7 linked regions of the Homo sapiens genome follow. The protein of the gene in region 1 interacts with the protein of each later gene in a pairwise test. Each region holds a gene or a part of one and is shown in the gene's direction. Other genes may lie near its edges. The genes, in order: TASOR2, ZNF76, CCDC33, CCNG2, TRIM73, FXR1 and ATRIP.

Region 1 (3,201 bases):
ATTCTCTTATAGCAATGCTTTTCACCTCTTTTAACTGATTCTTACCACCACACTTGCTTCTGAGTTCCCTCCCTCTCGGTAGTGCAGCTAAGCTCCTAGTAACACAAATTCAGGATTTTATTATATTTAGTCTCTTCACTTGCCAAGTCAGAGCAGCTCCATATTAAATTGTTTGCTTAAAGTCAACCTTCTCCATTTCTGATGTCAACACCCCTACCATCTTGATGTCACAAAAATCTAAAAAATGGCTACTAAGTCAGCTTATTTAATCATCTACTTGAAAACTCATACTTTACTTCTCTCAGGGCACTTTTATGTATAAAACCTGCCCCGGCTCTGATCACATTGGAAGTGATACCACTTCTAGATCAAAAGCAGCATGTACCTTAACCAGTGTGACTTCTACACAGAACCTGGGATTTTAAATATTTGTAGGCACACGTCTGTAATCCCAACACTTTGGGAGGCCAAGGCAGGAGGATCCCTGGAGATCAGGAGTTCAAGACCAGCCTGGGCAACATAGTGAGATCCCATCTCTACAAAAAATAAAAATACTAGCCAGCTGTGGTAGTGTGTGCCTGTAGTCCCAGCTAAGGAGACTAAGGATGGAGGATTACTTGAGCCCAGGAGGTTGAGGCTATAGTGAGCTGAGATCATGCCACCACACTCCAGCCTGGGTGACAGCCGAAACCCTGTCTCAAAAAAAAAGGATTCTGTATTTAGAAACTTCATTTCTCTACTGCATCGGGGCCTCCTGCTTCTCTTCTGTCACACAATTTGTACACAGAACTCTAGTTGCTGGTGACCACTCCACTGTGTTCGTGTCTACAGAGTTATCTCCCACCATAGTGTGAGCAGGTGGGACCAGGCTGAGGGGCTTGTGAGAGCAGGATGCTGCCCAACCACATAAGTGACAGTGATGGTGTGTACTCAACCATGGGTCTTAGTCTGTTTTTTTCTTGTTTTACAAATAATTATCACTGGGCTTGGCATGAGCCAAAAGTACCTTAAACTTGTCATCTTCTTTTGCTACATTTATTGTTTTGTAGTTCAACTGAAGGAAATTATCAAAATCCTGGAAAAACTAAATGGAAATGGAAGATGGAAGTGGTTGCTTCACTACAGGGAAAATAAAAAGCTAAAAGAAGATGAAAGGTAAGGACTTGCTGTGTGTATGGTTCCTCCTGCCCTGCTGGGGTAGCAGAGAAACGCCTCATGTTCCATGGGCTCTAGCCTAGTGCTGCAGTGGAATGGCCTTCATCAGTAAAGAGCATGAGGGCTGCTGGCTCTGTATTCAATGAAGGAAGCTATGTGCTGTGACCGTAGCCAACAGTATGAGGCATGTACTTATCTAGACTAACAGAAGTAAGGGAGTCAAACTTAGCAGTCATGAAATGTCCATATTCTATTTAAGCCCTACTACTACAAACTTTAAAAAATATATGGAACTTGTACCATTAATGCTTTTTTGGATACTTATAAGTTGCCACCACTTTAAGGAGAATGGAAAAATTAAGACCATAATCTATCCTTAATTCAGTTGTACCCTAAAAGAAGAGGCTTATAAATACGCAAACTTCACTAAGTCTAAAGCTGTAATTTATAAAAGAAAAAAATACATGTTTGATTCCTTGGCTGAAGAGAGCTGGGGCTGAGAGATTCCTCCACATTCTCACAAGCAGGACCAATTGGAAAAGCAGACCTGACAAGCCCTTGTGAAATAAGGATTTCAGGCACTGTTAGGTGCATCCATTTTCATTCAGACTTCATCCCCAGGAGCTAGATAGCAAATCCTCACTTTTATAATGCAGAACTGAAGCAGAGTAGATAACAAACATGACCAAGGTCAAACAAGTAGTAAGTTATGAAGCTGGGTTTCAATCCCAGAAAGACGAAACGACTGTTAGCTGTATGTGACCTTTGAGGAACAGAATCTCAGAAAGCTTTTCTCTTGAAGTGGAGCTAGCAAAGGAGAGAAGGAGCACAGAGGTTTCCTTGGCAGGAAAGGAGGGTGCAAAGGCTTCAGCAGGTCAAGGGTATGACCATTCACAGCGGACTTCAGTAACCAGCACTTGAGGGGAAAAACGTCAACTTCGGTAAGTAGAGAAGCACATTTAAGGTTCTGATGTACCACAGCACACCTATAAAATAAGCATAAATCAATCTAGCACTTCTAGGGCTTTGGGTAGAGAAAGTCATGTCACTTAACGACGGGGATACAGCCTGAGAAACGTCATAAGACGATTTTGTCTATGTGCAGACATAGAGTGTACTTACACAAACTGATATGGTAGAGCCTACTCCTAGATTGCAAACCTGTACATGTGACTGTACTGAATACTGTAGGCAGATTTAATGCAATGGTGGTATCTGTGTGTCTAAACACAAAAAAGGTTCAGTAAATTACAGTAGTATAATTTTATGGGACCACCATTGTATATGTGGTCCGTCATTGACTGAAACATCATTATGTGGTACATGCCCGTACTCACTGCTGTTGGCGCTGCAGTATGCTCTTCATATTATACCACTCTGGCATTATGTAACAGGCGTTATGTATTATTGAGAACTCATTAGAAAACTCTTCATATCCTTTGACCTTTTGTGGAATTTACCCAAAATTCTAGGTGGTTATCAGTCATTGCAAAACCAACCTCAGTTCCATCTCTAGGAGGGAGATATGCAGACTACAGTTAAATATTTTAAAGTTTATACAAAATAATGCCCACCCAAAACTTACACAATAGAAGCATGTAAAAAGTTTCTATTCATAGAAAGAGGGATGGCATAAAAGTTGGTATCATGTAACTATGTTCAGTATGATGTCATAAAAAATTTATACAGGAAAAAGTGAAAGGAAATTAATTCATGATGTTAAGAGTGATTATCACTAGGGTTATGGGAATGGGTGTGATTTGGGTTTTCTCCAACAAGCATGAGAATGTAAGTGATGAAAACTAGAGAGACGGGAGTCGAGCAGAGACAGAAATGCTAAAAATTTAAACATACTGAGTTAACACATTTTCCTAGTAGTGATAGAATTTTCAGGGAAGCAAGAAACCAAGAAAATTCTGGCTGCTACCTAATTTTAATGAAGTTGGCGATTATCTGCCCACAAGGTATGAGAAGTATAGATGTGCATTGCTCTACAAATATACAACGCAATAAGGCCCACTCGAAATTCATGAAAGGCTTGCCAAG
Region 2 (3,500 bases), on another chromosome or scaffold:
CTGAGACCAGTGGGAAGCATTTAAACTGTTGAGGCAGTTAAGTGACATGGTCACATTTGTGTCCCGCAAAGATCCCTCTGGATGTTGTGCTGCCTGGAGGGAACTAGAGGGGGTGAGGAGCGACTGGTCAGGAGGCTATTGTGGTCATCTAAGCCAAAATGATGATGGGCCCCTGTCAGGTCCTCAAGGAGCTTGTGAGTTCCCATTTAGTGTACCATAGGAGACCTCATCCTTAGGTGAGACAGCTGCAGAAGGAGGGCCAGCAAGAGTGAATCACAAAGTGAAGGGCCATGAGAAATTGGATGTTGAAACCCTCCTTGGTATATGTATCTCTCATTAACTTAAAGCTAGGGTCCCAGCTGTATCTCTTCCCCTTGTGTGGCATCAGGGCTAACCGCGTGTTCCCTGCAGAAGGCTATGACCCCAGCACCCTGGAAGCCGTCCAACTGGAAGATGGCTCCACTGCCTACATTCACCACCCTGTGGCTGTGCCATCGGAGAGCACCATCCTGGCCGTACAGACAGAGGTGGGCTTGGAGGACCTGGCAGCAGAGGATGATGAGGGCTTCAGTGCAGACGCAGTGGTGGCCCTGGAGCAGTATGCCAGCAAGGTGAGCACGCACAGCGTGACACGGTCTGTCACTCTAGACAACCGGGCCTGGCCTGCGCACTGCCTCTTGGCCCTGCCAGAACTTCACCTCTCAAGAGGACAAGGGCAGCCCTGTGCTTGGGCACCATGTGGGATATTCCCTTTGCCCCTCCACCCCAGCTCCCCCAACTCACCTGTCACACATCATTGTCTAGGGCATGCAACACAGCCTGGCCTGGCCGCTGACAGCTGTTTACGCTCACTTTTGTTTACGCTGTCTTTGCAGAGGGAAAGCTGCCATAAGAAACAGTGGCATCCTTATGCTGAGGAGTTAGGCCCAGCTTCACTTTGGCTGCTGTAGTAATCCTCTGCACTAGCTGGGAAAGCCCTGCCAGTGACTTGTATTAGCTTTCTAGTCCACTGAGGTAATTGTATTTATTTCTTCTCTGTGACTCAGTCATTTGGAAAATTAACCTCAGTGGGCTATGACAAGGGCATGTGCAACAGAACAGCTGGGATTCCTGGATTATGAGGCCCACACAGTAGCTCAGCTGGAAAGGAAAAGGGTCCTGGCTCTGCAAATACCAGTCAGTCCAAGTTCTTTCTGCCGAAACCATGGTCCTGCATGTGGGGAAAAGGGTACAGACATCTCTGAGCTTTCCAAACCAGGGTGTTCCCTTCCTGGAATGACTACAGAGCCTCAGGCTGGATGTGCCAGGGCTTCCTGCACGTTCCTTCCTTCCAGCAGTTTTACCCGAAGATGGGGGAGGTTTTTTATTTATAATGAAACCAGTGTGACTGAATGATGGAGGAAAAAAGGAAGTCCTCATGTCTTTTCAAAATGAAGCACAGGCCGGGAGCAGAGGCTCACGCCTGTAATCCCAGCACTTTGGGAGGCTGAGGCAGGTGGATCGCTTGAGTCCAGGAGTTTGAGACCAGTCTGGGCAACATGGCGAAACCTCATCTCTACACAAAAATACAAAAACAAATTAGCTGGGCATGGTGGTGCGCACCTGTGGTCCCAGCTACTGGGAAGCGGAGGTGGGAGGATCAGGAGGCGGTGACTGCAATGAGCTGAGATTGTCCCACTGCACTCCAGCCTGGGCAACAGAGGGAGATCCTATCTAAAAAAAAAAAAAAAAAAAAAAGTCACAAAACTTTACAGTAGGCTACATTCACTCCCACCCAGGTTCCCTGAGGTATATCTTAGAGACCAAATTTGAGACTCGATGTTGATGTAAAGAGAAGTGGGTTTTATTTAAATCATGAGCCCTGAGATCTATGCTTGCTCTACCTCTACCTAGTCCAAACTTGGGTGAGTCCCTCCTCTCCTCGACCTCAGCTTATTCCTAATATGATGAGATGGGACCAGATGATCTCAGAGGTCACTTCCATCCCTGATGTCCCTTGATTCCCGTGATTACCCCAGGAGCTAGTGAGACATGGAATGAAATCCAAGTGCCTGTGTGGGTTAGCCCGCCAAGCAGGTCAGGCCACCTCTGACCCTACCCTCTACCCAGAAGCTGTTTAAGTGTCCGTGAAGCTCTCAGCTGCTTGAGCCTCTGAGCTGGAGCCTAACTAGACAGACCTTGCCATGAATTTGGCCTCACCCCTCTGTCCCCTGCTCACTGTAACTTGTAGAGTTCAGTTTCAGGAGCTCCTGGAAAGACCAGAGTGTGATTCTGAAGCATTCTAGAAAGAAAGACTAAGGGATAGTCCCACCAGGACCCTGCCCAGGAAAGCAGAAGAGCAATAAGGGCTCCCTGCATCCAGAGGCTGGTGTGAGATGGGTGGCTTTAGCAATATCCCAGAAGAGGAGACAAAAGGGGAGGACTTGTCAGCTGGGTGCTGTCATTAGAGCTGACATTTCTGGTGGAAACTGCAGCACTCCCCTGGGTGCTTCTGGTCGTGGCCACCTCACTCTGGGCCCCAAGTCCTATCAGATGAACCTAGGTGAGCTCATCTCCACAGCAAGCCCCCTTGTTTATGTACTTTTAAGCACTAGTTTCGTGCCAGGAGGAAGGGGACCCCTCCCATCAGAAGATGGAGGTCTTGAGAGTTGCAGGCTCCTAGGTGTGTGTGCTTAGAAGGAGGGTTTCTGGCACTTGGTCCAGTTCAAGCATGGCCATTCAGACAACCTCCCTTTTCACCTTACCTAGCTGTCTATGTGATAGCCTTTCTTCAATAGCCGTCACAGCCACTATGACCTGTAGGTCTCCCTTTATCCCATCAGAGATGGGTGGTGACTCCCCATGCCCACCCTGTTTCTTCTGTAGCATGCCCCAGCATCTGTTCCTTGTCCGTCTAGTTATGTTCTTCTGCCCCAGAGGCCCCTGACAGGTTTAACCCTGCCTGTTGGGTCTTAAGCTGCCAGCAGGGCCCTGTGTCCCACCTTCTTCACTGGGGAGAATACATATAGGGATCTCAAGACTTTTCCCCCAGGTTCTTCATGACAGCCAGATTCCCCGTAATGGAAAAGGGCAGCAAGTTGGAGACAGAGCATTCCGCTGTGGCTACAAGGGCTGTGGGCGTCTCTACACCACCGCTCATCACTTAAAGGTAAGGTTGCTGGCAGACAGCCGTCAGCTCTGCAGTCTTCCCTCCCAGGCTGTAATTCTACCTTTCTGCTTTGATTGGAATTGGTCCCTGCCCTCACGTTGCTGGAGGGAAGAAATGAGGGTACACAGGAATGCCAGCACAGAGCGCTTGACACACATGAATGGTACAGGAGGGAAGAGAATCAGGGTCCTAAAGAAAACCAAAGAGCCCTGGTCATACCCTTGCTCCTCTGAATTATGTGATTGCTTGTCCTCACAGGTGCATGAACGAGCTCATACAGGTGACCGTCCATACAGATGTGACTTCCCCAGCTGTGGAAAGGCCTTTGCCACAGGTAACCTGCCTGGTGGGC
Region 3 (3,500 bases), on another chromosome or scaffold:
TGAGTCCCCACTGCCTCCCCAGTCAAACTGAGCCACCTCTGGGCCTTGGAAAGCTCTGCCCCTTCCCGCTTGCTGCCTTCGCTCCAGTGTTCTGCTCCTGGCCTGTCCTCCCTGACTCCACTCCTGCACCTTCTCCCAACCCTTTAAGGCCTCCTCCTCCCTGCTGTCTTCCCTGACCGCCTCAGCCGGCCAGGGCTTTGTCTTCTCTCAGCAGCTCTCGTTAAGATGGTCCTTTGGGCCATGAATCCACAAGTTACTAAGCTGCTGAGTCCCTGCTTGGGGCAACTGGTGTAGGAAGCCCCCTGCATGGGCAGGCACCTCTTCCTCCCTAGTCCGCAAGTTTCCTGGGTAGAAGACAGGTGGGGCATCTGGGACAGACACATGCATTCACCTCCACGTAATGCACTGAATGCCCCCATGAACGTGGAGAAGCTTTGTCAGCTGTAAAGTGCTGTGCACAGGAGGGACCTGAGGTGATGGGTGAGCTGAGGTGAGGTTACAAGATAGACTGAAGAAGGTGGCCCATTGTTAGGACTGCAAAAGCAGGTGGGATTTAGGAATTACAGACGAGGACACCTGCGAAAGCTAAGGCTTAGAAGTGGGACCAGACTTGAAAGGTGAGGTGGCCTGTCTCATCCTGCAGGAAGGGTAGGATCCAGGACTAGAGGAGAGGCACTGAGAGAGACGTGGGATGGGGACAGAAGTAGGGAGAAAATGGGGCCAAGGCGACTGCCTTGCAGAGTGGGCGGAAGGGTGACAGAGGGAGGCAGGCACTTGACGGAAGCTGTGAGTGGCTAGTGCTAGAGGGTGGCAGTGAAGGGAGGTGCCGCAGCAGAGGAGGCCACTCAGGGCCAGGTGCAGTAACTCATGCCTATAATCCCAGCACTCTGGGAGGCCGAGGCAGGCAGATCACCTGAGGTCAGGAGTTTGAGACCATGGGGAAATCCCGTCTCTACTAAAAATACAAAAATTAGTTGGATGTGGTGGCACATGCCTGTAATCCCAGCTACTGTGGAGGCTGAGGCAGGAGAATTGCTTGAACCTGGGAGGTAGAGGCTGCAGTGAGCCAAGATGGCACCACTGCACTCCAGCCTGGGCAACAGAGCAAGACTCTGTCTCAAAAAAAAAAAAAAACACTCAGCCCTGGCTCTCCCCACAGAACACTGAAGACCCAGAGGAGCCCCTGATCGCCTCCCAGAGCACGGAACCTGAGATCGGTCACCTGTCTCCCTCTAAGAAGGAGACCATCATGGTCACCCTCCATGGGGCTACCAACCTGCCTGCCTGCAAGGATGGCTCCGAGCCGTGGCCCTATGTGGTGGTGTAAGTAGCTGCGTGAGAGTGGGGGCAGGGGATGGGTTGGGCTGTGAGCAGAAACCAGGGGACAGCTATTTGGAATACTAGCACCCAAAGGCCCAGGACTGGGACTGTCATACCCAGAGGGGAGGAGCTGCTGTGGGCACTACCTGGCATCTCCGCTGCTGCATGGGAAGCTGCTCACCAGGGCTGGGGAAGACAGGGTGCCAACGGATCCAGAGAGTCACCCCTCCCCACCCCACACCAGTGGGGCAGGGATTGGTCACAGCTCAGCTCCAGTGGGGCAGGTTCCTTGTATGCAAAAGTCTGGGCTGGGCTCATGGGCATGATGGTCAGATTGGGGAAGGGGAAGATTTGGGACCTGCCTCTCCTGACTTCTGGGTGCCCCACCCCACCATACCCAGCCCTGGGGTAGGGTCCTCATAACCACCCTCCCCTCCTCCCCTCCTTCTCCAGTCACTTCTATTATGGGGACTCCCCTAGTTCTGGGCCTTTAATGCACCCCACACACCCCCTCCAGCCAGCTGCTGTCAGGGTACACACTTCCCCAGCCTGGCACCAAGGCCTGCCACGCCACGTCTATGCCCACCTCACGGGTCTCACTTCTTCCAGAAAGGCGCCAAGGGGCAACACAATCTCCATCCAGCCAACCTTCGCTGGGGACACTGAATATTTGCTCAATCTTTATTATAAAGCACCCTCCAAGGAGCATGTCACCCCTAGACCTTCTATAGACAGACGGCGGGAGCCTTGGTGGCCTCCCACCAAGCCACCCTATACTTCCCCTCCCCCACCAATACTGGCACCATTCAGTTCCTGCCAAGAGTCTGTTGCCCACATTTCCTTTTGGGGAGTGCCTGCCCCAGCCCACTCACCAATGCCTGCTGAAATCCTGCCTTCAAAGCCTCCTCCTCCAGGCAGCCACCAGAGTTGAGCTCTCCCTCTTCTGGAGCTCCACAGCAGTGGTGACCCTGGTCTGAAGCACTTTATATCAACATGGTTTATGCACTCCTCTGGGGCTCCCTGAGGACGGATCTCCTCCTCCATTTCCCTCAACAATGCATCCAACATAGGCCTGAGCCCAAACTTAGGAGCCAAGGAGTGACTGAGGCCAACACCTGGTTACTATGATAAGTCCCTGCCCCCCCAGGGCCCCCACTGTGAAAGGGGGGTAGAAGCTGTGCCGAGAGCAACAGGTGAAACACTTGCCTTAAAAGCCCCATTTGTGCCAGCCCAGCTCCTCGGCCATCCCTCCCCCAACTCCATTTCCGTGGTGAGGGAAGCACAGGTGGTGGGAGCAGGCTTGGCAGGGAGGCTGGTTTCTAGCGGGGAGCTCGCCTTCTCCGCTCAGCTATTTCCATAAACCAATTATCGCCGATCATCTCGGGAGATTGAGGCCCTGACTGTCACCAATCCGGCCTGGGCGGCGGGGCGGGGAGCTGGGTGGCTGTGTGGCTCCTAGGCAGGCACCGCGACCCGCGCCATCACCCGGTTGCCATGGGAACGCGCGGCAGGAGCCTAGGCGACACGAGCCTGGGTGGGGGTTCGGAGAGCCGGGCACACCCCGAGTCCTCCTGCACCCTCCCTGTGGCTGCGGCACGTGGGGCGGGAGGGTGGGGACAGAGAACGCGGGGAGGGGGGAGGGGAAAGCACTTCGCTGCACCCTTCTCCAGCTGGGAGCAGCGCCCGGGCCAGGCTGCAGCCTGCGTCCCAGGGCTCCAGACAGGCGAAGCTGCCACCAGCTCGAGGTGGTGCTAATGAGATGCAAATGATGGGAGAAGGAAGGGCTTCTGAGAATGTGAAGGCCGAGCTGTCAGGACCTGAAGGGGGCTTTCAGTGCTCACCCCCAGCCCCAGGCAGAAACCCCAGAGGGAGGATCCAGACCCTCAGAGGCCATAGAACCTGGAAAGAATTTATATCCCTGCACATCTGATTACAAATAAACAAGTAACAAAGCACACAATAGGCATAAGAAAGTTCATGAAAGTTTTCGTTTTGTTCATGATGAATATTTCAATGCTTTTTAAAAATATGTATTTGTGAAGACTTCAATGTAAGACCTGCAACTGTAACACCCCTAGAAGAAAACACAGGGGAAAGGCTCCTTTACATTGGTCTTGGCAATTAATCTTCGGATATGACACCGGAAGTACAGGCAACAGAATCAAAAATAAGTGAGACTG
Region 4 (3,500 bases), on another chromosome or scaffold:
AAAAAGCTTAATTTATTTTGGGAGAGATTATATTATGAATTTCATAAGTCTGAAATACAAATTATACTTTAGTGCTAGGAATCTAGCTTTTGAACCTGCATGGAAATTTTTGTACCTGCATTTGAATTTACATAATTTAAAGGTTCAAAAAACTTTTTTTTTTTTTTTTAAATAGAGATGGAGGCTTGCTGTGTTGGCCAGAATAGTCTTGCTATGTTGGCCAGAGTGTTCTCAAACTCCTGGCCTCAAGCAGTCCTCCCACCTCAGCCTCCCAAAGTCCTGGGATTACAGGCATGAGCCACTGTTCCCTGCTGCCTTTTTTTTTGGGGGGGGGGGGAGGTCGAGAACGTCTAAAATGTGAAAATGTGTATAATTGTGGGTAAAGAGCCAGTACATATAAGAGAAACAACTTGATTGTGTTCTGTCTTAAGAATAGGAGCATCATTACAATATTCTAAGTATCTGCTAAGTCAAAGTGACAGTTGTTAAAAGAAGCCTCTTGTTTTTTTCTCAGGTGAAACCTAAACATTTGTCTTGCATTGGAGTCTGTTCTTTTTTGCTGGCTGCTAGAATAGTTGAAGAAGACTGCAATATTCCATCCACTCATGATGTGATCCGGATTAGTCAGTGTAAATGTACTGCTTCTGACATAAAACGGATGGAAAAAATAATTTCAGAAAAATTGCACTATGAATTGGAAGCTACTACTGCCTTAAACTTTTTGCACTTATACCATACTATTATACTTTGTCATACTTCAGAAAGGTCAGTGGGATTAAAGATACATTTTGTACTTTGAACATTGCTATAGCTAACAGTAAATAATTGGAATGGCAATGAAATTTATATTTTTACCTTCTTCAAACTTTCAACTTTGACTTTATTGGTAAATCTTTTTTTTTTTTTTTTTTTGGAGAAGGAATTTCGCTCTTGTTGCCCAGGCTGGAGTGCAATGGCGTGATCTCGGCTCACTGCAACCTCCACTTCCCGGGTTCAAGCGATTCTCCTGCGTCAGCCTCCCAAGTAGCTGGGATTACAGGCGTGCGCCACCACACCTGGCTAATTTTATATTTTTAGTAGAGACAGGGTTTTTCCATGTTGGTCAGGCTGGTCTCGAACTCCTGACCTTAGGTGATCCACCTGCTTCTGCCTTCCAAAGTGGTGGGATTACAGGCGTGAGACACCGCGTCTGGCCCTGGCAAATATTTAAAATCATTTAAAATCATTTAAATCTTTGGAAGTTTAATAAATCTTTGTTCTTTGCATTGTATAGGAAAGAAATACTGAGCCTTGATAAACTAGAAGCTCAGCTGAAAGCTTGCAACTGCCGACTCATCTTTTCAAAAGCAAAAGTAAGTCGATTCCTTGCTTATGTATATATCTCACAGTTTGTATTTTGAATTTTTAAAAAATATTTTTCTTTTTTTTCTTTTTTCTTACAGCCATCTGTATTAGCCTTGTGCCTTCTCAATTTGGAAGTGGAAACTTTGAAATCTGTTGAATTACTGGAAATTCTCTTGCTAGTTAAAAAACATTCCAAGGTAATTACAGTCATTATTCTTTAAGGCAAATTTTTTTCCTGATGTTTATTTTTTTCTGTGGTGACTTAAACATTAAGTAATACTTTATGGGACTCTTAACTTTTACACTTGTTTTTTTTCTTATATCTCTAGTGTTAAAGTTCTCAAAATGCAGCTTTGACCCAGACAGTATTAATCCGGAAGGGAACCTGGTCACTTAGCTCAGCTTCTTTCTGCATATAGGTGCCCCTTCTGTAGTAATCATGCCATATGATAGTACAGCTGTTACATTGCCACATATGCATTGTTCTGAAATGCATACTAGGTAGTAGACTCAGAACAAACACTAATGGGATAGGATGGGATCCCATCACACCTGTAGGACTGAACTGTCATCCCATTAGCAGCAGCATCAATTAACACCAGCAATGTTGATGTTTTAAACCCGAATGTCTTTTCAAATCCTTTAGGCCAGCTAAGTAAAAGTAAGTCTTACCATCACAAAGAGATATAAAACAAAAGCACAATACTTTTTCTTAAACTCTCAGTCTAGTTGGGGAAATGAGGAACTTAACATGAAGTGGTGTGTTCTGTCATTTGTTATTGTGTCTTGGTGCCAGGTAATAGTGAATATAGAGAGTACTTTGGGATTTTTTTTTTTTTTTTTTTTTTTTTTGAGACAGTCTTGCTCTGTTGCCCAAGCTAGAGTGCAGTGGCATGATCTTGGCTCACCGCAACCTCAGCCTCTCGGGTTCAAGTGATTCTCCTGCGTCAACCTCCCGAGTAGCTGGGGCTACAGGTGCTCACCACCATGCCAGGCTAATTTTTATATTTTTGGTAGAGATGGGGTTTCGCCATGTTGGCCAGGCCGGTCTTGAACTCCTGACTTCAAGTGATCCCACCTGCCTTGGCCTCCCAAAGTGCTGGGATTACAGGCGTGAGCCACTGTGCCCGGCTTACTTTGGGTTTTTTTTAAGCAAAGAAATAGGGCAGACTAGGAGAAACACTATGACTGGGAGCCTGTTTGGAGCAAAAGAATCTTTGACAGTGAAAGTTTCAGCGAAGGCTTAACGGCCAAGAAATTGGTGGACTAGACAGATATAAAAGTCATTTTAGGGTAGACTTACAGGTACAATGTCTAGGTGGTAGTCACAAGCAGGAGTAAGGCTGTCCAACTCAAACAGTGGTTTTGGAAGCCAAGCATGGAAATGAGGCAAGGAGTCTTGAATGACCAAGATTTGTACCTAATGGTGGATATAATATTAGCATAATTGGCAGGAAATTTGGGAGAAGTTAATTTGTGATGAGAGCAATATGATTTTAGATGCTTGTGTACACAGGTGGGTGTCTAGTAGGTGTTTGGCGTTTTGGAATAAGAAGATAAACTATAGTTAGAGATTGAGGTTTGGAATTTCTCATGAAGAAGCAGTAGTTGAAACGGTAAGAAGCTGTGGAATCCTTTTTGTAGGGGTCAGTTGAAGCTCTGGGGTTTTCAGCGTTGGCCTTTCCCCCCAACATTAGGAGCCAAGTGAAGAAAGGTACATCCCCACAAGTAGAAGCACTGTCAGACTGGAAGGAGGTTTTTAAGGAGGTGGTCAGGAGTATTGAATTTTTATAAGAGATCCAATATAATGAAAATTGAAGGTCATTGGGTGTGTCAGAGGTAATGTCAGTAGAGCAGTGAGAAGGAAGTGGTAGAAACCAGATTACAAGTGGGTTAGGATGTAGCTACATTAGGTGAAAATGGGAAGCCAAGAAAATAGATCTTCTGTTTTCTGGTGAAAATATGTGCATGTGAAGCATTTTGTTTGTAACAGATAACTTTTTGCTTTAGTTATGATTTTATTAGTTTTTATCTGAACTTTTTATTGATAGTGATAGCTGGAACCATCTTCAGTGAAAATTGATTCGTTGAAATAAACTGAAGGCATTCCGAAGGAGGAGGGAAAAAAATACGTAAAAAGAAAAACAAAAAAGAAA
Region 5 (4,145 bases), on another chromosome or scaffold:
AGCCGAGGAGTTTTCCTAAAGTAATTAGAATCGAAGGGTCTGTCCAAGTGTTCCAGGTATCCATAGTATTTCACTAGAATAGAGGAAAGAATGTAAGGAAAATGGACCCAAAACACCCACGCCACCATAATATCGAGTCTCTCATGATCACACAGAAACAATGCGATCAGATGAGCTTAAGCTGCCCGACACCACGAGGTACAGGAATAAATCTCTCTGCATTTTAGGAGCCTACCCTTCGGCTCAGAGGTTCAAGAGCTTCATGGAAGCATCACGCAAAGGGGACATAGGGTTCCTTAGCTTTCCTCTTAAAAAAACTAATTCATGGCAGAAGCAGCGGCTCACGCTTGTAATCCCAGCTACTGGGGAGGCTGAGGTGGGAGGATCACTTGGGACCAGGAGTCTGAGACCAGCCTGGGCAACATAGAAAGTGCCCCATCTCTACAAAAATATTAAAAATTAGCCGGGCATGGTGGATTGCGCCTGTAAATCTCTTATTTGGGAGGCTGAGGCTGGAGAATCACTTGAGCCCAGGAAGCAGAGGCTGCAGTGAGCTATGTTCGCACCACTGCACTCCAGCCTGGGGAACTGAGCGAGACCCCGTTTCAAAAACAAAAATCCACTTCAAACAAAGCATTTCCAACCCCATTAAATGCTTTTTGAAAATGAGGCCTCTCTCTTCCCAACAGAGTGCGATGACATGGATCCTGCGGACAAACCGCCCCAGGGCGTACCTAGCACCGAAGCATCAGGCGCCACTAGGTCTCCAGCTCCTTCTCGGATGACGTCCTTCAGCACGCCCCGGTCCCCCGAGATGTCCAGCATCCTCTGACTTAACCGCTCGTACAGGGACTGATGGAGAATGAAAGCCAGGCCTCAGAGCCGCAGACCCACCCGGCCACCCCTCAGCGTCTACGCCCCCGAAACGTCTGGGCCCTCACCTGGCCGGGGGCGTCGTCCCCTTCCAGGACTCCCTGGTTTAACGCGCTTCCCCCCATGTCCTAGCTGCCCTCCCTGTGGCGTGAGCCTTCGGCCTGGTGCGCCCCGCTGCCCTTCCTGGCTGTGACTCTGGTGGGGTTCCGAAGGCCCCTTTATGCCCGGCAGACCCCTACCGACGGCGGCATTACATTCTGGGGCCACGAGGAGGCACTCATCGTTTCGTTCCAACCGCCGCCAACGGCCCTGGCCCTCGCGAGCTCTGGAACTACAGAGGTCGCACGGTGAGTTGCCAGGTGTGGCCCGTAATCGGAGCGCACAAAACATGATGGGACACGTAACGGGACCACACAGGGCACATTGGGCACTTGCAGGGGCGCGAGGTGGCGGCACGTAATGGGAGCGCGCTGAGCATGATGGGGCATGTGCGGGAGCGCCAGGCGGGGCATGTAACCAGAGCGTGCGGGGCATGATGGGGCACGGACATGGGGGGTTAGGTGGGGCACGTAATTGGAGCTCGCGGGGCAGGATGGGGCATCTAACTGGAGCGACAGAGAGCACGATGGGGCACTTACAGGGGCCGGAGGCTGGGTACGTAATGAGAGCGAGCGGGAAATGATGGGGCACCTAACGAGCACGCAGAGCATGATGGGGCACGGGTGCGAGGTGGGGCGCACAGTGGGAGCGCGTGGGGCGTGATGGGACACATGGCGAGGCCGTCAGGGCACAGGGGAAGCACTTTTGGAACACGTGAGTGACAGGGCTGCCGCCCTTGAAGGAGCCCTCGGAGTGGCTGCGTGGTGGGGCACGTGGGGCAGGTTCAGGAAAAAGGATGCAGCATGTGATTGCAGGGCAACCTGGTGAGGACACGAGAGCCACCTGCCACCAGCAGGGTTCAGGGCTCCCAGCTGTGGGTTACTTCCACCTTCTTTCACTTTCCCTCTTCCATTGTATTCTAGAGAATTTAGGCCCAGACAAGACACTGATTGATTGATTGATTGATTGATTGACAGAGGCTCGCTCTGAGCCCAGGCTGGAGTTCAGTGATGGATCTCAGCTCACTGCAGCCGCCACCTCCTGGGCTCAAGAGATCCTCCTGCCTCGGCCTCCCAAGTAGCTGGGATTACAGACGTGCACCACCAGGCCCAGCTAATTTATTTTTTAGTTTTTAATTTGCTGGTAAGATGGTTTGTAGCTTTGTTGCCTAGGCTGGTCTTGAACTCCTGGCTTCAAGCGATCCTCCAGTCTTGACCTCCCAAAGTGCTGGGATTATAGGCGTAGGCTACAGCCAACTTTCAATACTGCCCCATTGGGGGTTACGTTTCCAACACATGAAATTAGGAGGATACATTCAAACCACAGCAGTATATTATGACCATAATATTCATTAACTGTGTAACAGGCTGGGCGCGGTGGCTCACACCTGTAATCCCAGCACTTTGGGAGACCAGAGTGGGTAGATCACTCGAGGTCAGGAGTTTGAGACCAGCCTGGCCCACATGATGAAACCGCCTCTCTACTAAAAATACAAAAAATTAGCCGGTGTGGTGGCAGGCGCCTGTAACCTCAGCTACTTGGGAGGCTGAGGCAGGAGAATCACTTGAATCCGGGAGGTGGAGGTGGCAGTGAGCCTGATTGCACCACTGCACTCCAGCCTGGGCAACAAGAGCAAAACTCTGTCTCAATAAACAAACAAACAAACAAAACCTGTATAACAGAGTGTCATTGAATTTCTAAACGTTGAAAGACTTCACATTAAAAAAAAACTCACAATTTAATATTATTGAGTGAAAGAAACCAGACACAAAAGGGTACATTCTATATGATGCTGTTTATGTGACATTCAAAAACAGGCCACATGACAACATGGTAATAAGGACAGTGGCTGTCCTTGTTAGGAGTTATGACTGGAAGGAGGCAGGAGGGAGCTTTCTGGAAACACTGTACATCTTGCTCTTGAGAGTGCACGTATATACATCAAGTGTTTATCAAGCTGTGTGGTTAAGATTTGCACACTTGTATATGTTATACCTCGATTTAAAAAATCTAAATAAGTAAATAAAGATACCTTCAAATCTTTAAAAAAAAAAAAAAAAAGAGGCCAGGTTCGGCGGCTCACACCTGTAATCCCAGCACTTTGGGAGGCTGAGGTAGGAGGATTGCTTGAGGCCAGGAGTTCAAAACCAGCCCAGGCAACAAAGTGAGACCCCTGTCTCTACTAAAGTAAATAAAACAATAAAATAAAAAAAAAAATTCGAGAGATCGAACCATCATCTGCCAGTTTGTATTAGAAAAAAAGAGAGAGAGAAGGAAGACTGCGTGCAATAAGGCTCATGCCTGTAATCCCAGCACTTTGGGAGGCCAAGGTGGGAGGATTGCTTGAGCCCAGAAGTTGAAGACCAGCCTGGGCAACAAAGCAAGACCCGGTATCTACAAAAAAAATTTTAAAAATTAGCTTGGCATGGTGGCATGTGCCTGTAGTCCCAGCTACTCAGGCAGCTAAGGTAGGAGGATGGCTTGAGCCTAGGAGTTGGAGGCTGCAGTGAGCTGTGACCACGCCACTGCACTCCAGCCTGGGCAACAGAGCAAGACACTGTCTTCCCCTGCCCCCCAGCCCCCCACCCCCCCCAAAAAAGGATATAAGAGCAAGAGATTGAGATTCAGAAAGAACTGTTTCCCAGCACCTATCTGCTCCTGTTGGGGTCATGAGGTGTGGACGGTGTACCCAGTCCCTCTGTTTCTGCCCCTCCTCCACAGTGGCCAAGGCCAGCACTTGAATGTTATCAGAGCAGGCCCAACAAAGGCTGCCTCCCCAGTCCTGTGATGTAACCCAGTTTCCACCTGATTCTGGTGACCTTGGGGACACAGGGGTGTTGCTGGGGAAGGGGAGGAGAGAAGGGGCAGAGACCAGGCAGTGGTGCAGGCGTCCAGCTGCACTTCCCACTTCTGACTCTGTGCCTGCTGTTCCCTGCTGGGAAGAAGAAAAGCCAGTGATGCTGGCTTGAGGCCATAGTGGGAGGCCCAGTGGATCCTGAGAAGCTAGGTATTCCAATGTCGGGCTCTCGCTGGGGGCTTCTGGTGCTTCTTCTGTCTCACTGACAAGCTTTCATAGGGGAGCAGGTGGGAGATCAGGGTAGAGGCCTTGTAGGTTCCAGGCTCTCTAGAATTACCTGGGAGTGTCACCTATAAGTGTAGAGTTCTGGGTCTCA
Region 6 (3,500 bases), on another chromosome or scaffold:
GATTTATATATATATATATATATATATATATAATGAGTACTGTAGTTTTATCAGTTTAATAGGAACTATAAGAAACATTTCCCAGTATAACATCTCTGAAGTTGGTATGTGTGTTAAATTGGACATCTTACAACTTTAGCAGCATTTTCTTTTTTAATGGCACATAAAATAATGTCTTAAAATTGATGGCCTCTTGGAGTCGATAAAACGTGATTATTTTTAGCTGTTAAGCTTAGCACAACCAACCATTGAAAAATGATATAAACCATCTTCATAAGGTGATTTTAGAAGTTTGAGGGGAAAATATGATTTTAAAATTGGTTAAAAACACGATGTCATTATGTTTTGTTACTTTTTTTTTTTTGAGACGGAGTTTCGCTCTTGTTGCCCAGGCTGGAGTGCAGTGGCACAATCTCGGCTCACCGCAACCTCTCCCTCCTGGGTTCAAGTGATTCTCCTGCCTCAGCTTCCTGAGTAGCTGGGATTACAGGCATGCACCACCATGCCTGACTAATTTTGTATTTTTAGTAGAGACAGGGTTTCTCCATGTTGGTCAGGCTCGTCTCAAACTCCAGACCTCAGGTGATCTGTCTACCTCGCCTCCCAAAGTGCTGGGATTACAGGCGTGAGCCACCAGCCTGGCCTAGTGTCATTACTTTTAAAGCTTGTTTAAAAAAACGACTTTGAATCACCAACCTGTGTTTTACAAAATTGAGAGGCTGGAATAAATGGTTTCCCTGATTTTATTAGAGTATTTGTTTTCTATTGCAGTAATAAATTATCACAAACTTAGAGGCTTGACCACAGAAATTTATTATCTTATAGTTCTGTTGGTCAGAAGGCTGACATGGGTCTCACTAGGCTAAAATCTTGTCAGCTGGGCTACGTTTCTTTCTGGAAAGTCTAGCGGGGATTCCCCTTTCAGTAGTTTAGAAAATTTCTCTACTTTTAAAGACCCAGTGAGATTAGTTTGGACCCACCTGGATAATCCAGGATAATCTCTCTATCTCAAGGTCCTTAACCTTAGTCACATTTGCAGAGTCCTTTTTGCTATCACAGAAACATTTAATATGTGTTATTAACAGTTATTTAATATGAGTAATGTTGAGCACTAGCCAATACATTAAAATTTTGGGGGGTACGGCCTCAATATCTGTTTTACCTGCTGAAATCTATGATTTAGACATTCCCTCTAAGTCTCTTGAATACTATATGTAGGTTAAATTTAAGGAAGACTTTACTTGCTGTGACACGGGGTTAGATAAATACTACACTGGATTTCTAAGGATACTTCAATATGAACTTTTGAGAGAGTCTTCAGAATGAAGTATTCTTCATTTGCCCTGAATTTTGGTAATGTTTTCAGGTAGGGTATAGGTTTGTAAATAAATTCAGAAGTTCTTAAACATTCTGAAAGGCTTTTTTTTTCACTATTCAAGGAAAGATAAATTGCCTTCATTACAACTTTTATGACATCCTGTTAATAAAGTACTTTTTGTCATTTGGTGAAATAAATGTTAGGGGAAATTAATTCCCTTCCCTGAGATTCTAATCCCAACAAAGAATTGAAAGTGAGTAATAGAAATTTGATGTATTCTTTGAAAAATACACATCCAACTAATTACCTAATTGTTTTTATAATTGACTAGTTACATCTATTAACACCATGTAGAGAAAAGGTAGGCATCCTAGAGTTATCGTTAAAGGAGAAAGGAAGTGAGGCACCTTCATGTATAAAACTTTACATTTTATTCCCTGCACCTTAATACTTAAAACTTCTTATGTCTGAAGAGCTCTTGTTTGCATTTTTCCTCAAATGATTGCAGAGTTTAAATATAGGGAACTTCAAGGTATTTCATGAAATCACTCTTATCTGAGAGTTTAGCAAATGAACTTCAAAATAATGCAGCAAATTATTTGGTTGAGAAAATTGTTATACACTCTGCCAGGCATTTGAGGACATATAAGATGGAGTTCCACCCTTTATCATAGACCAATTTTGAAGTAATTCCACAGGGGGAAAAAATAACAACATGGCACAGTCTGTGATAGATGTGGGGCGATTTTAGGATAACAAAAAATGGGGAGAGATCTGTCTTAGTTGCAGTGGTCTGAAGTTAGAATTTGAACTAGGCCCTGAAGGAGATATATTTGGTCATATAAGAGGGAAAGAAGAAGTGGCATCCCAGAACTAACAAGTGGAAATGAATATGATAGTGATTGAGTCATATGTATCTGACATTTGAGTTACAGTAATTATTAAATAATGATAATGTAGGCCTCTGATTATATCTTTGTGGTGTTTAAATAAATTTTTGAAAGGTCACCATTACAATAGTTGCAGTGTTAGAAATGGTCTGTAAACTTTTAAAGGCAATGCTGAATATTTGTCTCACTGGTCATGGCTTCAGTTCTGTTGTCAGGTGAGAGACCTTCTGTTTCAGAGAAACCTTAAATTCTGTTTAGTAATTGCAAATATTAGGTTGGTGCAAAAGTAATTGCAGTTTTTGCCATTAAAAGTAAGAAAAGCAAAAAGTAAAAGTAGTTACTTTTAATGGCAAAAACCGCAATTTAAGATGCTAGTAAAACATGCCATCATTTTATATACAACCTACTGGAAAAATTACTTCTAGCTTATAATAAAGATGCCATCAATTATAAGAAATATCTTGATTTCAGAGATGTTAACATGTGAAAAGTATACCCTAGAATCAATGAAATTATGGTGAAATACACTATACAGTTAAACTATTCAGTTTTCTAAATATGATTAATTTACTCAAATATTGAAGTTATTTTTATTGTACTAATAATTTAGGTTACTAAAACCCAAATCAGCAGAAACATTTGACTATCCATACTAAGTACATTCTAATATTGATAAATGATGTTCTGTATGGTTTTTTTTTTTTGGTGCCAAAACCTAGGAATTAATGTTCTGTATATTTTCTGTAATTTTTCTGTTGACTGCATTTCTGCACATCAGTTTTTTTTTTAACTTCCATGACTTTGTATTTCCTGGATATTATCCCCTTTTGCTGATGAGATGGTCACACCTTTGACTATATTACATGACATAGCACATCTTAGCAGACTGCAGTGAGGGATTCTTCTGCTGGTTTTGAAGAAGTGAGCGGCCTTCTGCACATCAGTTTATTTTTTAATCTGTATTAACTAGTAGATACTATACTAGTATATTAATAGTATAATAATTGATTATTCCTTAGTACGTTTCAGATTGATTTTAACTTTCATGGATCTTTCTTTGAAGCAGCCAAACAGTATTGCTTATTTAAACAATAATTTGTAGGACATAATTTTGAACATTTTAAAAGGCTTTTTATAGAAATCTAAGTGGTTTATGTTCTTTTCTTTTCCAAGGTACAAATTCTGAGCTGTCTAACCCCTCTGAAACGGAATCTGAGCGTAAAGACGAGCTGAGTGATTGGTCATTGGCAGGAGAAGATGATCGAGACAGCCGACATCAGCGTGACAGCAGG
Region 7 (3,500 bases), on another chromosome or scaffold:
AGTACCTACTACAACTTTCCCTCAGCACCTCCTCATGCTTCAATCTCAAGGACATGGGATCTTATTCTCATTGTTTCATTCAGCAAACTTAGCAAACTTTAAGCACTTACCTGTGCCCATCATTAACCGCAATAGTTAACTTTCTGTATAAGTGATGAAGAGCAAGGAATTTGCGGTCAGACAAACCTGAATTTGAATCCAGGCTTCATCACACATAAGCAGTGACCTCAAGGTAATAACTTAAGCTCCCTGGCTCATTTCCCTTATCTGTTCCAAGACATAACCAGAAAGGTTGTTGGGAGACTCACACATTCTTGCACTTACTGTGTCTGGTGCTGGGCCTGGCGCAGAGTGTGCTTGGGGAATGATGGCAGTTACTGTTGGCTGTAGCAACTGCAGGCCAGAGCAGCAGGTCTCTCTATACTGCACAGTGTCTTGGTAAACTATTCCAACTACTCTGCCCAAACTTTGAGGAAGACCTGGAATTGTGCACCAGTGCGTTCGTTAATAAAGGTCAATATGTTACTGCTGACATAGGGCACCTTACCAAGCTCTATGCTGGGTATTTTACACTCATCATTCTACTTAATCCTCCCAACTATCATGAAGACAGGTGTTTTATGTTACAAATAAGTTAGGATTCAAAGACATTAAATAAATGGTGGGCTGGTATTTAATTCTTTTTTTTATTTTTTAAATTTTTTGTAGAGGCAAGATCTTGCTATTTTGCCCAGGCTGGTCTCGAACTCCTGGGCTCAAATGATCCTCCCGCCTCAACCTCCCAAAGTGCTTAGGATTACAGGCCTGAACCACCACACCCGGCCAGGGCTGGTATTTAAACCCTCACAAACTACCCTTACAATAGAGTCCAGTATCTTTTTAGAGTACCATATTGTCTTTCAGAAAGAAAGCTAATGTTTAATATTTTAGGACATTTATGTCACAGCAGACTTTCATATGTATTTTTCATTGTTTGTCTTTTACTGGCTTGTGATTTTGAAGCCCAGAGATATTTTTGTGTATATGATGGGACCACTACAAGCATGTTTCTTTTGCCTTCCAGCTCCAATCATTGCAGTCTGAACTCCAGTTTAAAGATGCAGAGATGAATGAATTAAGGACAAAGCTCCAGACCAGTGAACGAGCAAATAAACTGGCTGCTCCCTCTGTTTCCCATGTCAGGTAATGATGGTGCTGGAGGGATAGTTCAGTTTTGCATTATTTAGTAAAAAATCTGCATAACAGTGTCAGGCTGGTCCTAAATGAAGGCCATTTAGACCCCTCCACCTGGGCAGAGATCCTCTTTTCCTGAAGGATTCAGAGGTGGTTTAGATGAAGCTTGCATGGTTTGAGACATCACAGCATAAAGGCCTATACTCTAGAAATGCTGCCTCTGTATGGCACTTTATAAACATAATTCTTCAGGACTAGAAAGACCTGGAAAAATGATCTCCAAATTTTGGGGGTGGGCTAGTCTCTACTTTTATGTAATTTGTTTAACTGATTTTGTTGCAAGCATGGGTGTATTTTAGTTCCAGCTACTTGGAATATTTTTTTCTCATTTGCTTTCTGGGGACCCTTGTCCAACAGCCCCATCCTTTGTGGTCAGATGTGCTCAACTTGTTTTTTTTTTCTTTTTTTTTTGAGACAGAGTCTCGCTCTGTCACCCAGGCTGGAGTACAGTGGTACAATCTCGGCTCACTGCAACCTCCGCCTCCTGGGTTCAAGCAATTCTCCTCCTTCAGCCTCCTGAGTAGCTGGGACTACAGGCACACACCACCACGCCCAGCTAATTTTTGTATTTTTAGTAGAGACGGAGTTTCACCATGTTGGCCAGGCTCGTCTCAAACTCCTGGACTCAAATGATTTGCCAGCCTGGGCCTCCCAAACTACTGGGATTACAAGCATGAGCCACTGTGCCTGGCGCAGCCTGGAAATTTGAACAGTGTCAGTCAGGGCATCTTCTGGTTTTGAACTTTCTACCGCCTTTGTTCATAATGGGCAGTGTGTGAAACTGAACTCTCCATGCCTTGCATTGTCCACATAAGACAAGAGAACTGAGGGGATCCTCTTCACACATCAGTAACAGAAAGACCTCAGCATTATATGATCAGATCAGAGAGTTAATACTGCTTCTCTACCATAAAGACATTGGCACTAAGTTGCTCAGTTTTCAACATACCTAGTAGGTTTATCAAAATTATGATATTTATTTTGATAGCCCTTTTTCTATTTAAAGTCTTTGCATTCTATTGGAAGTCTTTTTTTTTTGAGACAGAGTCTCACTCTGTTGTCCAGGCTGGAGTGTAGTCACATGATCTCAGCTCACTGCAACCTCCACCTCCCGGGTTCAAGTGATTCTCCTGTCTCAGCCTCCCAAGTAGCTGGGATTACAGGCACATACCACCACACCAGGCTAGTTTTTTTGTATTTTTTTTTTAAGTAGAGATGGGATTTCACCATGTTGGCCAAGCTGCTCTCGAACTCCTGACTTCAGGTGATCCACCCACCTCAGCCTCCCAAATTGTTGGGATTACAAGGGTGAGCCACTGTGCCCAGCCTGGAAGTCTTGTGACTATTAAAAAATCGTTTGTTCCACATTGGCTGGGTGCAGTGGCTCACACCTGTAATCCCAACACTTTGGGAGGATGAGGCGGGCAGATCACTTGAGGTCAGTAGTTCAAGACCAACCTGGCCAACATGATGAAACCCTGTCTCTACTGAAAATATAAAAATTAGCTGGGCATGGTGGCATGCGCCTGTAATCCCAGCTATTTGGGAGGCTGAGGCAGGAGAATCACTCAAACCTGGAGGCAGAGGTTGCAGTGAGCCAGGATCACACCACTGCACTCCAGCCTGGGCAACAGAACAAGACTCCATTCCAGAAAAAAAAATAGTTTGTTCCACATTGAAAAGATGTTTTGCACCAGGCATGGTAGCTACAGAGGCAATCCCAGCTACACAGGAGGCTAAGGCAGGAAGATTGCTTAAGGCTAGCAGTTCGAGACCAGCCTGGGCAACATAGCAAAACCCCATTGCTACTTAAAAAAAAAATAAAATTACTGGCCCCAGTGGCTCACGCCTGTAATCCCAGCATTTTGGGAAGCTGAGGTGGGCAGATCATTTGAGCCCACGAGTTCAGGACTAGCCTAGGCAACATGGTGAAACTCTATCTCTAGAAATAACTCTATCTCTAGAAAGAATAAAAAGTTAGCCAGATGTGGTGGTTGCACATCTGTAGTCCCTGTGCTACTCAGAAGGATGAGGTGGGAAGATCACTAAGCCCAAGAGGTGGAGGCTGCAGTGAGCCGTAATTGTGCCACTGGGCTCCAGCATGGGCAACAGAGTGAGACCCTGTCTCACCAAAAAAAAAAAAAAAAAATTAGCTGGCCATGTTGATGTGTGCCTGTAATCCCAGCTACTCAGGAGGCTGGGATTACAGATGGGTGGATTGCTTGAGCCCAGGAGGTCAAGGCTGCAGTGAGCTATGATCATGCTAC

The links.
Region 2: the proteins of TASOR2 (region 1) and ZNF76 interact in binary tests that used the Homo sapiens proteins (3 or more experiments, as listed by UniProt).
Region 3: the proteins of TASOR2 (region 1) and CCDC33 interact in a two-hybrid assay, tested with the Homo sapiens proteins (one large-scale study listed by BioGRID).
Region 4: the proteins of TASOR2 (region 1) and CCNG2 interact in a two-hybrid assay, tested with the Homo sapiens proteins (one large-scale study listed by BioGRID).
Region 5: the proteins of TASOR2 (region 1) and TRIM73 interact in a two-hybrid assay, tested with the Homo sapiens proteins (one large-scale study listed by BioGRID).
Region 6: the proteins of TASOR2 (region 1) and FXR1 interact in a two-hybrid assay, tested with the Homo sapiens proteins (one large-scale study listed by BioGRID and IntAct).
Region 7: the proteins of TASOR2 (region 1) and ATRIP interact in binary tests that used the Homo sapiens proteins (3 or more experiments, as listed by UniProt).

What each region holds. Positions count from the first base shown.
Region 1 is NC_000010.11:5,757,838-5,761,038, forward strand, and holds part of TASOR2 (protein TASOR 2), read left to right. Parts: intron 1-1,049; coding exon 1,050-1,155; intron 1,156-3,201.
Region 2 is NC_000006.12:35,287,235-35,290,734, forward strand, and holds part of ZNF76 (zinc finger protein 76), read left to right. Parts: intron 1-388; coding exon of another isoform or gene 389-411; coding exon 412-611; intron 612-3,018; coding exon of another isoform or gene 3,019-3,031; coding exon 3,032-3,148; intron 3,149-3,406; coding exon 3,407-3,482; intron 3,483-3,500. UniProt on the Homo sapiens protein: May be involved in transcriptional regulation.
Region 3 is NC_000015.10:74,242,826-74,246,325, forward strand, and holds part of CCDC33 (coiled-coil domain-containing protein 33), read left to right. Parts: intron 1-1,159; coding exon 1,160-1,323; intron 1,324-3,500.
Region 4 is NC_000004.12:77,160,207-77,163,706, forward strand, and holds part of CCNG2 (cyclin-G2), read left to right. Parts: intron 1-514; coding exon 515-765; intron 766-1,273; coding exon 1,274-1,352; intron 1,353-1,442; coding exon 1,443-1,541; intron 1,542-3,500. UniProt on the Homo sapiens protein: May play a role in growth regulation and in negative regulation of cell cycle progression.
Region 5 is NC_000007.14:75,394,284-75,398,428, forward strand, and holds the start of TRIM73 (tripartite motif-containing protein 73), read left to right. Parts: upstream 1-1,345; 5' UTR 1,346-1,527; intron 1,528-4,145.
Region 6 is NC_000003.12:180,964,670-180,968,169, forward strand, and holds part of FXR1 (RNA-binding protein FXR1), read left to right. Parts: intron 1-3,381; coding exon 3,382-3,500. UniProt on the Homo sapiens protein: mRNA-binding protein that acts as a regulator of mRNAs translation and/or stability, and which is required for various processes, such as neurogenesis, muscle development and spermatogenesis.
Region 7 is NC_000003.12:48,453,237-48,456,736, forward strand, and holds part of ATRIP (ATR-interacting protein), read left to right. Parts: intron 1-1,063; coding exon 1,064-1,182; intron 1,183-3,500. UniProt on the Homo sapiens protein: Required for checkpoint signaling after DNA damage. Required for ATR expression, possibly by stabilizing the protein.